Regions from separate parts of the Homo sapiens genome. Here region 2 is reported to be linked to region 1. Evidence: microRNA targets listed by miRTarBase, many of them from high-throughput screens and not tested one by one. Region 1 holds a microRNA gene; the other region holds the end of a gene's coding sequence.
Evidence for each region. Region 1 holds the annotated microRNA hsa-miR-532-3p (CCUCCCACACCCAAGGCUUGCA, at 2,920-2,941, opposite strand). A microRNA usually pairs through its seed, bases 2 to 8, with sites in the 3' UTR of a target mRNA and lowers its output. Matches are read on the target gene's strand: a 7mer-m8 pairs with bases 2 to 8, a 7mer-A1 pairs with bases 2 to 7 and ends in A, and an 8mer does both.

Region 1 (4,527 bases):
CCTCCATCCATCTCTCAACTGAATTATTTCAATGGCCTCCTAACTGGTCTCCCAGTTTCTGCACTTTCTCCTCCTATTTGCCATACAACAGTCAGAACCATACTTGTGAAGCAAAGACACAGAAAACTGTAATCCTGATTTTGAATCAGAAGTATAATGGAATCATGATGTATTTATCTAGAAACAAGAAAACACAAAAACAAAACATTTTTCTGTTCTGATCATTGTAGAAGCCTAAATACAATGACCAATCCAGAGGCAAATATGGTCTTTAAATATCATGTCTGATTAAAAGAAACCAGGGCTTCTTGAAGACATGGCAGATTCCAGGCCTGGGGAAGGTATCTGCGATGAGCTTTGTACATTTTTTTCATCTCTGAAAGCGGAGAAGCTATCAGATAACTACGGAGGCATGTCAAAAGGACTGAGGAACCAATTTGAAGAAGCTCCTACTGGCTAAAGATGGGGCACTGGAGCTTCACTGAAGGCAAGAACTGCAATGGATTAAAAGTCCAAATATATTTAAATCTATGAGTTTATTATAATAGTTTTTTTAAAAAATCCTCTTTAGAGTAAGCTAGTGAACCAACTCATTATTCTGAGTACTGATAAATAAAGAGAACCAAACATTTATCCTATCTTGCCTATAAAGACGGCAACACTGGGTGATCAAATAGCAGATGAAGGGAAGTTTTTCTTTATAGAAGTATTCCAGCTAATAAATCAAGAGAATAATGGGATTAGAATATCATCATTTTGCAACCCCTAATGAAATAACGGCTCTAAGAATTGAGCATCGGTGGCAACTAACATCACAGAAAGATGATCATCAGTTATTTTGTGCCTCTTAATGGAAGTAGTTCTGCTCCCCCTTCCTCAAAATTAAGCCTGAATTTGATCAGGCTTCCAGATGCAACTATCAGTTTACAGGAAATACAAACAAGGAGAAGGAACATGTAAACTACATCACAGGGATGTGATCACAAAAATCCAGACTATGCAAAACTGTATAGGATGAATGGCCCACTTTCTTCCAACAAATAAATTATAAGGAAAGAAAAAATATAGATGGAAGGGAAAGATATAATTCAAAGGGACTTAAGATACATATCAACCAAATGCAATGCATGGACCTTATCTGGATCCTAATTTATGATATTTCTGAGACAAGTGGAAATGGGAACAACAGATATGTGATGATATTAAAAAATTGTTGGCAATTTTTTTTCTTTTTGAGATGAAGCCTCGCTCTTGTCACCCAGGCTGGAGCGCAGTGGCACGATCTTGGCTCACTGCAACCTCCGCCTCCCGGGTTCAAGCGATTCTCCTGCCTCAGCCTCCCGAGTAGCTGGGATTACAGGCACCTGCCACCAGGCCTGACTAATTTTTGTATTTTTAGTAGAGACGGGGTTTCACCATGTTGGCCAGGCTGGTCTTGAATTCCTAACCTCAGGTGATCTGCCTACCTTAGCCTCCCACAAAGTGCTGAGATTACAGGCATGAGCCCCTGTGCCTGGATGGTAATTATTTTTAAGTGTGATAATGGTATGATTTTTTTTTTAAAAGCGGCCTTAGATTTTAGAGATACATAGTAATTATCAGCTTTCCCTTTTTCCATTGTAACTTACTACTTCCCAGCCCTATGCTTCTGCCACAATGGCTCTTTGTTGTTCCTAGAACACAGTAGGCCTTTCCTGACTACCCTATTTGATATCGAAACTTCTCCACCACCATCTATGCTGTAACTACCCCCACCCACTCCTTGTCCCCTTTTCCTGCCTTATTATTCTCCAGAGCACTTATCAACAATTGGCACACTATCTATTACTTACTTATTTTGTTCACTACCTGCCTCCCCTCACTAGGGCAGGGATTCTTGTCTTTTGGTCACTGGTGTATCCCTGGTGCATAGGGGAGTACCCAACACACAGTAGCTGCTCGATAAATATTTGCTGAATGAATGAGTGGCTCACCAAATGAATCGGCTGCAAATCCTGGGTCTGGGGAGATAACAGAGAAAACTCACAATCTGACTCATATCTACATGAGTGTCTAAGAAGACAGATCTTCACACACCCTCTTGAGCAAACAAGTGTGCATATGGAAAGGCATGGCACAGTGAGTGGATTCTACTTTCTGAACCCAAAATGTGTGTGCATATTACATCTTTGCATATGGTTATGATATAGACACAATTTTCCTCACAAACTGGGTTTGTGAGAATTAGCTAGAAGACTCCCTTTTCATCATGCCCCATGTACAGGAGTCCTGAGAAGGTTCTCTCTCCTCCTCTAGGTGCCGCTAAGACAGAACCAGGTCAAAAGACCCCCCTTCCTTCTCTAGGCTGTGCCTATCCCTGAGTATGAGGGGCTGCACCATGTGCAAGAGAAAGCTAAGAGAAGTCTCCCTCTCCTGCAGGATCCATGTAAGACTGAGATGGGAGAAAGGACATGGCTGAGAGTCATTCTCCTTCCCACCACATGGGTGTGTGTTTTTCTTTTGGTGAAGGAGTGCGTATGTGTATATACACATGCACAAGAGAGCAAGGAAAGCTGAGGCTCGCCATCCTGCAAACCCTGCATGTGGGAGGGGTTTTCAGAAAGCTCACCCTCCACCATGCAAGGGATGTGAGAGAGGGAGCAGGGAAGGGCTTGCTCTCTTGGCACGACATATGGGTATGCTCTAGGAGGCAAGAGGCACTGGCCTGGGGGGTGCAAGTGGGCAGCAAGATAGCCACAGGAGTGCTGATGGGTAAACTAGGAGCAGTGGCCATGGAAGCAGGACAGTCATCCAGATGGGATGGCTGCTAACAGTGTACCCCACATACAGAGCACGTAAGAGAGGGTCTACCTCCCTTTGGTGTACCTGTCCATGTGCTCATGCCTATGCACTGGAGAGGGAAGAGAAGGCTCGCTCTTCTGCAAGCCTTGGGTGTGGGAGGGTAATTAAGATGCCAACGGTCCTACACTCAAGGCATGGAGGAGAGAAAGCAAGTCGGGAGGTCTGCTCTCCTGTATACTGTGTGCATGCGTATCCCAGATGCCTTGGACTTCTATGACTGTGCCCCAGACATGCTGTAATGAGAAGGTGTGCTTGTGTACATTCACATATGTACCTTCAGAAATGTTCACTATCTACAACATATTTGTTTTCCTTCCTTCTTTCTTTTCCTTTATTTTTATTCCTAACACCAGTATAGTATTTACATTTGCAGAGCACTGTTTTAAGTGCTTTTCACACATAGCTCATTTATTCTCATAAAATATCCATGAGGTGATCATTATCCCTATTTTACAGATGAAATAACACACATACGAGAACAGATGGTAAGAAAGCTTAGAATCTGGCATGCAGGTCATTAGAAAGAGGACTCAAAAAAGGAGGCTCAAGCTCTCAGCCACCAACCACTTTGTGTCCACACACACACCACACACACACACACACACACACACACACACACACAGAGAGAGAGAGAGAGAGACAGAGACAGAGACAGAGACAGAGAGACAGACAGACAGACAGACGCAAGAGAACTTGCACTTGTCAGCCCAGGGAAAAGCTGGATTAGTGTGGAAATAATAGAGGAAGTGAGAAGTATGAGAAGTGGCTGTGTGGTCAGATTAGACATGTATTTTGAAAGTAGAGCCAACAAGATTTGACAGCAGTTTGTATTTGGAGAATGGAGGGGAAAAAGTGTCAAAGATGAATCCAAAACCTTTAGCTTATTAAAATTCTCCATATCCTTGGCATATGCAATTGGGAAATGCTGTTTGCTGAGTTGGAGAACACAGAGGGAGGAGTAGGGCTTTTTGAGAGGGGGAGGAAAACCAGGACCTCAGCTTTGGATGTGTTAAAGTTTTGAGATACTTATTAGACATTCGGGGCAGATGTCCAGTACATAGTTGGACATAGGCATCTGGAATTCAGGAGAGAAGTCCAGGCTGGAAATACAAACACAGAAATCATCCACATAAAATGGTACTTAGAGTTGCAAGACAAGATGAGAACAGCTGAGGACTAATGAGAAGTTAAAAAAAAAAAAAGAAGTCTGAAGACTAAGCCCTATATCTCTTTAATACTTAGAATTCAGGAAGAGGAGGAGAAACCATCAAGAGACTGAGAAAGAGAGGCTTGTGAGGTAAGAAGACAACCTCATGAGTGTGGAATCCTGGAAAGCAGGTAGAGTCTCAAGGCAGAGGGAGTGATCAACTGTGTGTTGATCTGTCAAGTAAGATGACAACATTGCCCAGTAAATTGGGAAATGTGAAGGACACTGGGGACCTTGACCAGGGTCATTTAAGTGCTGCAGGTTACAGTTTTACATGGAGGGTTTTCAAGAGTAAATGGGACTAACATTTAAGTCTTTAATCCATCTTGAATTAATTTTTGTATAAGGTGTAAGGAAGGGATCCAAGGACAGAAAACCAAACACCACATGTTCTCACTCATAGGTGGGAATTGAACAATGAGAACACTTGGACACAGGAAGGGGAACATCACACATCGGGGCCTGTCATGGGGTGGGGG
Region 2 (4,000 bases), not on the chromosome of region 1:
ATACAGGGCACTCTTCACTTGGCCAGCCCTGTGACCTTGACTAAAATCATTGTGCTTGGCAGGGCACGGTGGCTCACACCTGTAATCCCAGCACTTTGGGAGGCCGAGGCAGGCGGATCACCTGAGGTCAGGAGTTCAAGACCAGCCTAGCCAACATGGTGAAACCCCGTCTCTACTAAAAATACAAAAATTAGCCAGGCATGATGGTGCGCACTTGTAGTCCCAGCTGCTTGGGATGCTGAGGCAGGAGAATCGCTTGAACCCGGGAGGTGGAGGTTGCAGTGAGCTGAGATCGCGCCACTGCACTCCAGCCTGGGCAACAGAGAGAGACTCCATCCCAAAACAAATAAATTAATTTAATCAAATTAAATCATTGTGCCTCTCCGAGTCAGTGTGACACCTATAAAGTGGGGGCAACATGCCCCACCTGCCACCCCCAGGCTGTCCCTTTGGCTAGGGTCAAAGGAGATCATGCATGGACTAGCCCTGCACACAGCAAGGCCCCACCCAGTAAAAACAAAGGCACTTCATGCTCCCATGGGTCCCAGGGACCAAAATGACATCGGCTCTTCTTTTGCTTTGGCACAGAAACTGCTTTCCCAAACAGACTGCGGCCCAGGTGACCCTCAAAGCCATCTCAGCCCACTTTGATGACTCGAGCGCGTCCTCGCTGAAGAACGTGTACTTCCTGCTCTTCGACAGCGAGAGCATCGGCATCTACGTGCAGGAGATGGCCAAGCTCGACGCCAAGTAGCCGCCGCACTTTCCAGCAGGGATCGGAGGACGACCCGAGTCCCAAGAGTGGGGTTTTGCTTTTTAAAAGGAGAGAGGAGGGGTGATGGCAGGGGAGTGGAGGGTGGCCGGGCAGGTCCTGCCGGCGCAGGGAGCCCTCTGCCCTTCACACTCTCCTCCAAAAGAGCCTCCATCTGTAAGGAAGCAGGTCTCCGCGAGGGGTTTCTTTCCATGTGTTTTCCTCCTGTTGTTTTAGAACTTTTTTAAAAAAACAGACCTCGTTTTAGATTTATAGCATTGACTTTTACACACATTCACACAAGAAAAAAATCCTTTCAAAATTCTTAAATCTTCTGTTCCTCCTTTTTCCAAGGGAAGAGGGCAAAAAGTGGCCTGGGCTCTGTTGGTGTGCGTGTTCCGTGGCGGAGAGAAGAAAATGGGAAAGACATCTCACTGGTGCTTTTCTCTTTTGTTTTAGTGCCCCCCGCCCCCATCCCTATAATATCTGTAACTACTCCTAAAAAGGTTTTGATTCAGGCTTTTTTTTGGTTTCATTTTGTTTTTTTAAGAAAAAGAAAATGAAAGGAAAAAAATAAAAGATCCAGTGTCTTTCTTACAACATATTCTTTTATTGCAACATTTTCCTCAGTTTGGAAAACTGTGTCCCCACACGTAGGTCCTTCTAGAATATTGTAAGTCAATAGAAGAAGGCCTGTCGCTCACACACTGGGATTCCCACCTCGCTGGACCCCAGGTCAGATAGCACCAGGGCCTGTGTTTCTTAGGCCGAAGGTCCTGCCTCCAGGAAGGTGGGCTTCCCTTCGTGGTCCATAAAGAAAGACAGATACTTGGATGCAACCACCAGGGGAACAGCCATCCTCCAATAGAGGCACACGACTCACTTAGGCCTGGGCGACAGCCCCAACGGGATGGCCTGAGAACCCCAGAGAGGCTGGTGTCCCAAGGACTCTGCCCGAGTACCCAGAGGCCACCATCAAAAGGGAGCAGGGAGGGGCAGGGTGGGGAGGTGGGGCCTGAATTTCTTCAGATGAACTCATCAACCACTTCTGCTATGCAGATTTAACCCAGGCAGTCCAAGAGGGGCTCCTCTGGATTGGAAGATCTCTCCCAAATAGAGGAATCATTTATACACTGTAACATAGTCGGTGGCAGACATTAGTGCCCAGCTGGGCCTCCAGACAAGTGACCCTGGGGTTGGCCAGGAAACCAGAAGCACAAAACCACAAAGTCCCTCAAGGGCCCTCTCCCCATTCCCAGCATCAGCTGGAGTTTTGTCACTTACAAATCTGCCCATAAGTAACCTAGAAATATGCTGGGGGTCACCCGCAGAAACCCCCTCTGCTCGCTAATGGGTAAGCAGATGGCACCCCGCAAAGAGTCACATTATCTGCCCTTCCTTAAACACCTCCAATGGCTGGCAGGCCAGGCTGCAGTCTCAACCCCTGCTAGCCGTGTAAAAATGCACTCTGTCAGGGTGGGGTAACCAGAAGAGCACATTTATCTAGCTCTTTCTTCTTAAATGAAACCTGTGGTATGGAGTAGGATCTAAAAGTGGAAATGTGCTGGCCGCAGTGGCTCACGCCTGGAATCCCAGCACTTCGAGAGGCCAAGACGAATGGATCACCTGAGGTCAGGTGTTCGAGACCAGCCTGGCCAACACAGTGAAACCCCGTCTCTATTTAAAAAATACAAAAATTAGCCAGGCATGGTGGCACGTGCCTGTAGTCCCAGCTACTTGGGAGGCTAAGGCAAGAGAATCACGTGAACCCAGAAGGCGTAGGTTGCAGTGAGCTGAGATCGTGCCACTGCACTCCAGCCTGGGTGACAGGGCGAGACTGTCTCAAAAATAAATAAACAAACAAACAAATAAAGTGGAAATGTAGGAAGGCCATGAGGCTTAAGGAGCACAGGGATTATGCACCTGTTAGCAAATTGAAAACAAGGCTCCTGTGAAGTCCCTGGTTGTTGCAGAATGTATGGGCTCCCCGACCGTGTGATGGCAGAGATTTGGGGTGCTGGGCCTCTCTCCACCTCAGGTCCCTCCTTTGTTCTCAATGTGCAGCTCTCCTTCCTGCCCTCACAGACAGACACTGGCCACCAGAGCCCAGCAATCTGCCCTGCTCTGAGAGCTCTAAATGGCACGCGTCATGACCACAAGCACGTACACACACATGCACATCCCAGAGGAGGCAGGTGCAGAGGAAGGGCTGGCTGTGGCCTCCCCAGCACCATGCAGCCAGCACACATGAGCCGCTCACCCAGTACCACAGCAAGCACACCTTCCAAACCCAGAAAGTATCCTCTAAGGGGGGTATTTGTTTAATACCTCTCTCTCTCCCATTTTTGTTTTATACAAGTTGCATTTCTAGCCACCACATCATTGGCATCTTATTCCAGAAGAATAGCATTAGTTCTAGCACTTGCCAGGCGGGTGCCATGCGCCAAGCAGTCCGTACGCCCACCTGCTGCGGTAGTTCTCCCGCCTGGCCTCTCCATCAAGGTGGAGACTGCCTCATGGTTTTCCAGCTCGTAGAGACGAACAGGTCCCGGCTCTTGGTCAGCCGAACCATGAGCCGGCCCACATAGAAGCCACTGATTTGGCCCACACCGTCATTTCTCCCCATGGACAGGAGGAACGTCAGTGCACCTGCAAGCAGAGACACAGAAACAACCAGAACCTCACTGAACCGCCTGGGGCTGCACCTCCCAGAGTGCCGATCCTTCCCGAGGCCTTCAGACTCAGGGCCGGAAATGTGAAATCGCTTTAGGAAGGTGGGTGAGACCCTGATTTTTTTTTGTTTGTTTTTTTGAGACAGAGTTTTGCTCTTGTTGCCCAGGCTGGAGTGCAATGGTGTGATCTTGGCTCGCTGCAACCTCCACCTCCTGGGTTCAAGCCATTCTCCTGCCTCAACCTCCCGAGTAGCTGGGATTACAGGCATGCACCACCACACCTGGCTAATTTTGTATTTTTAGTAGAGACGGGGTTTCTCCATGTTGGTCAGGCTGGTCTCGAACTCCCGACCTCAGGTGATCTGCCCGCCTCGGCCTCCCAAAGTGCTGGGGTTACAGGTGTGAGCCACCGCGCCCAGCCTATTTTTAAAGAGCTCTAAGGGGATGTTTCCATCACCAGCTTGGAGAGTTTGTTCTAGTGGCCAGGTATGGGATAGCCCAAAAAGGCTTCCCCATGTTTAACCCCAAACTCTATTAAAACTGCAAAGCACATGGGGCCTCTCTTACCCGGCTTGTA

Region 2: miRTarBase lists AIFM2 as a target of hsa-miR-532-3p. Seed matches in the 3' UTR shown: 7mer-A1 at 3,087-3,093 and 7mer-A1 at 1,857-1,863.

The regions. Positions count from the first base shown.
Region 1 is chrX:50,001,618-50,006,144 of GRCh38, reverse strand. It overlaps MIR532 (microRNA 532), which reads right to left and starts at 2,997; the gene lies at 2,907-2,997. The region is part of intron 3 of CLCN5 (chloride voltage-gated channel 5); the gene reads right to left. MIR188 (microRNA 188) reads right to left here and starts at 2,642; the gene lies at 2,557-2,642.
Region 2 is chr10:70,110,930-70,114,929 of GRCh38, forward strand. AIFM2 (AIF family member 2) reads right to left here. Exons shown (of 9, transcript NM_032797.6): 8 at 3,991-4,000; 9 at 1,342-3,400. The coding sequence ends at 3,249. MACROH2A2 (macroH2A.2 histone) reads left to right here. Exons shown (of 9, transcript NM_018649.3): 9 at 589-1,353. The coding sequence ends at 754. Among named protein-coding and RNA genes, the nearest start is that of AIFM2, 20 kb to the right of the region's middle.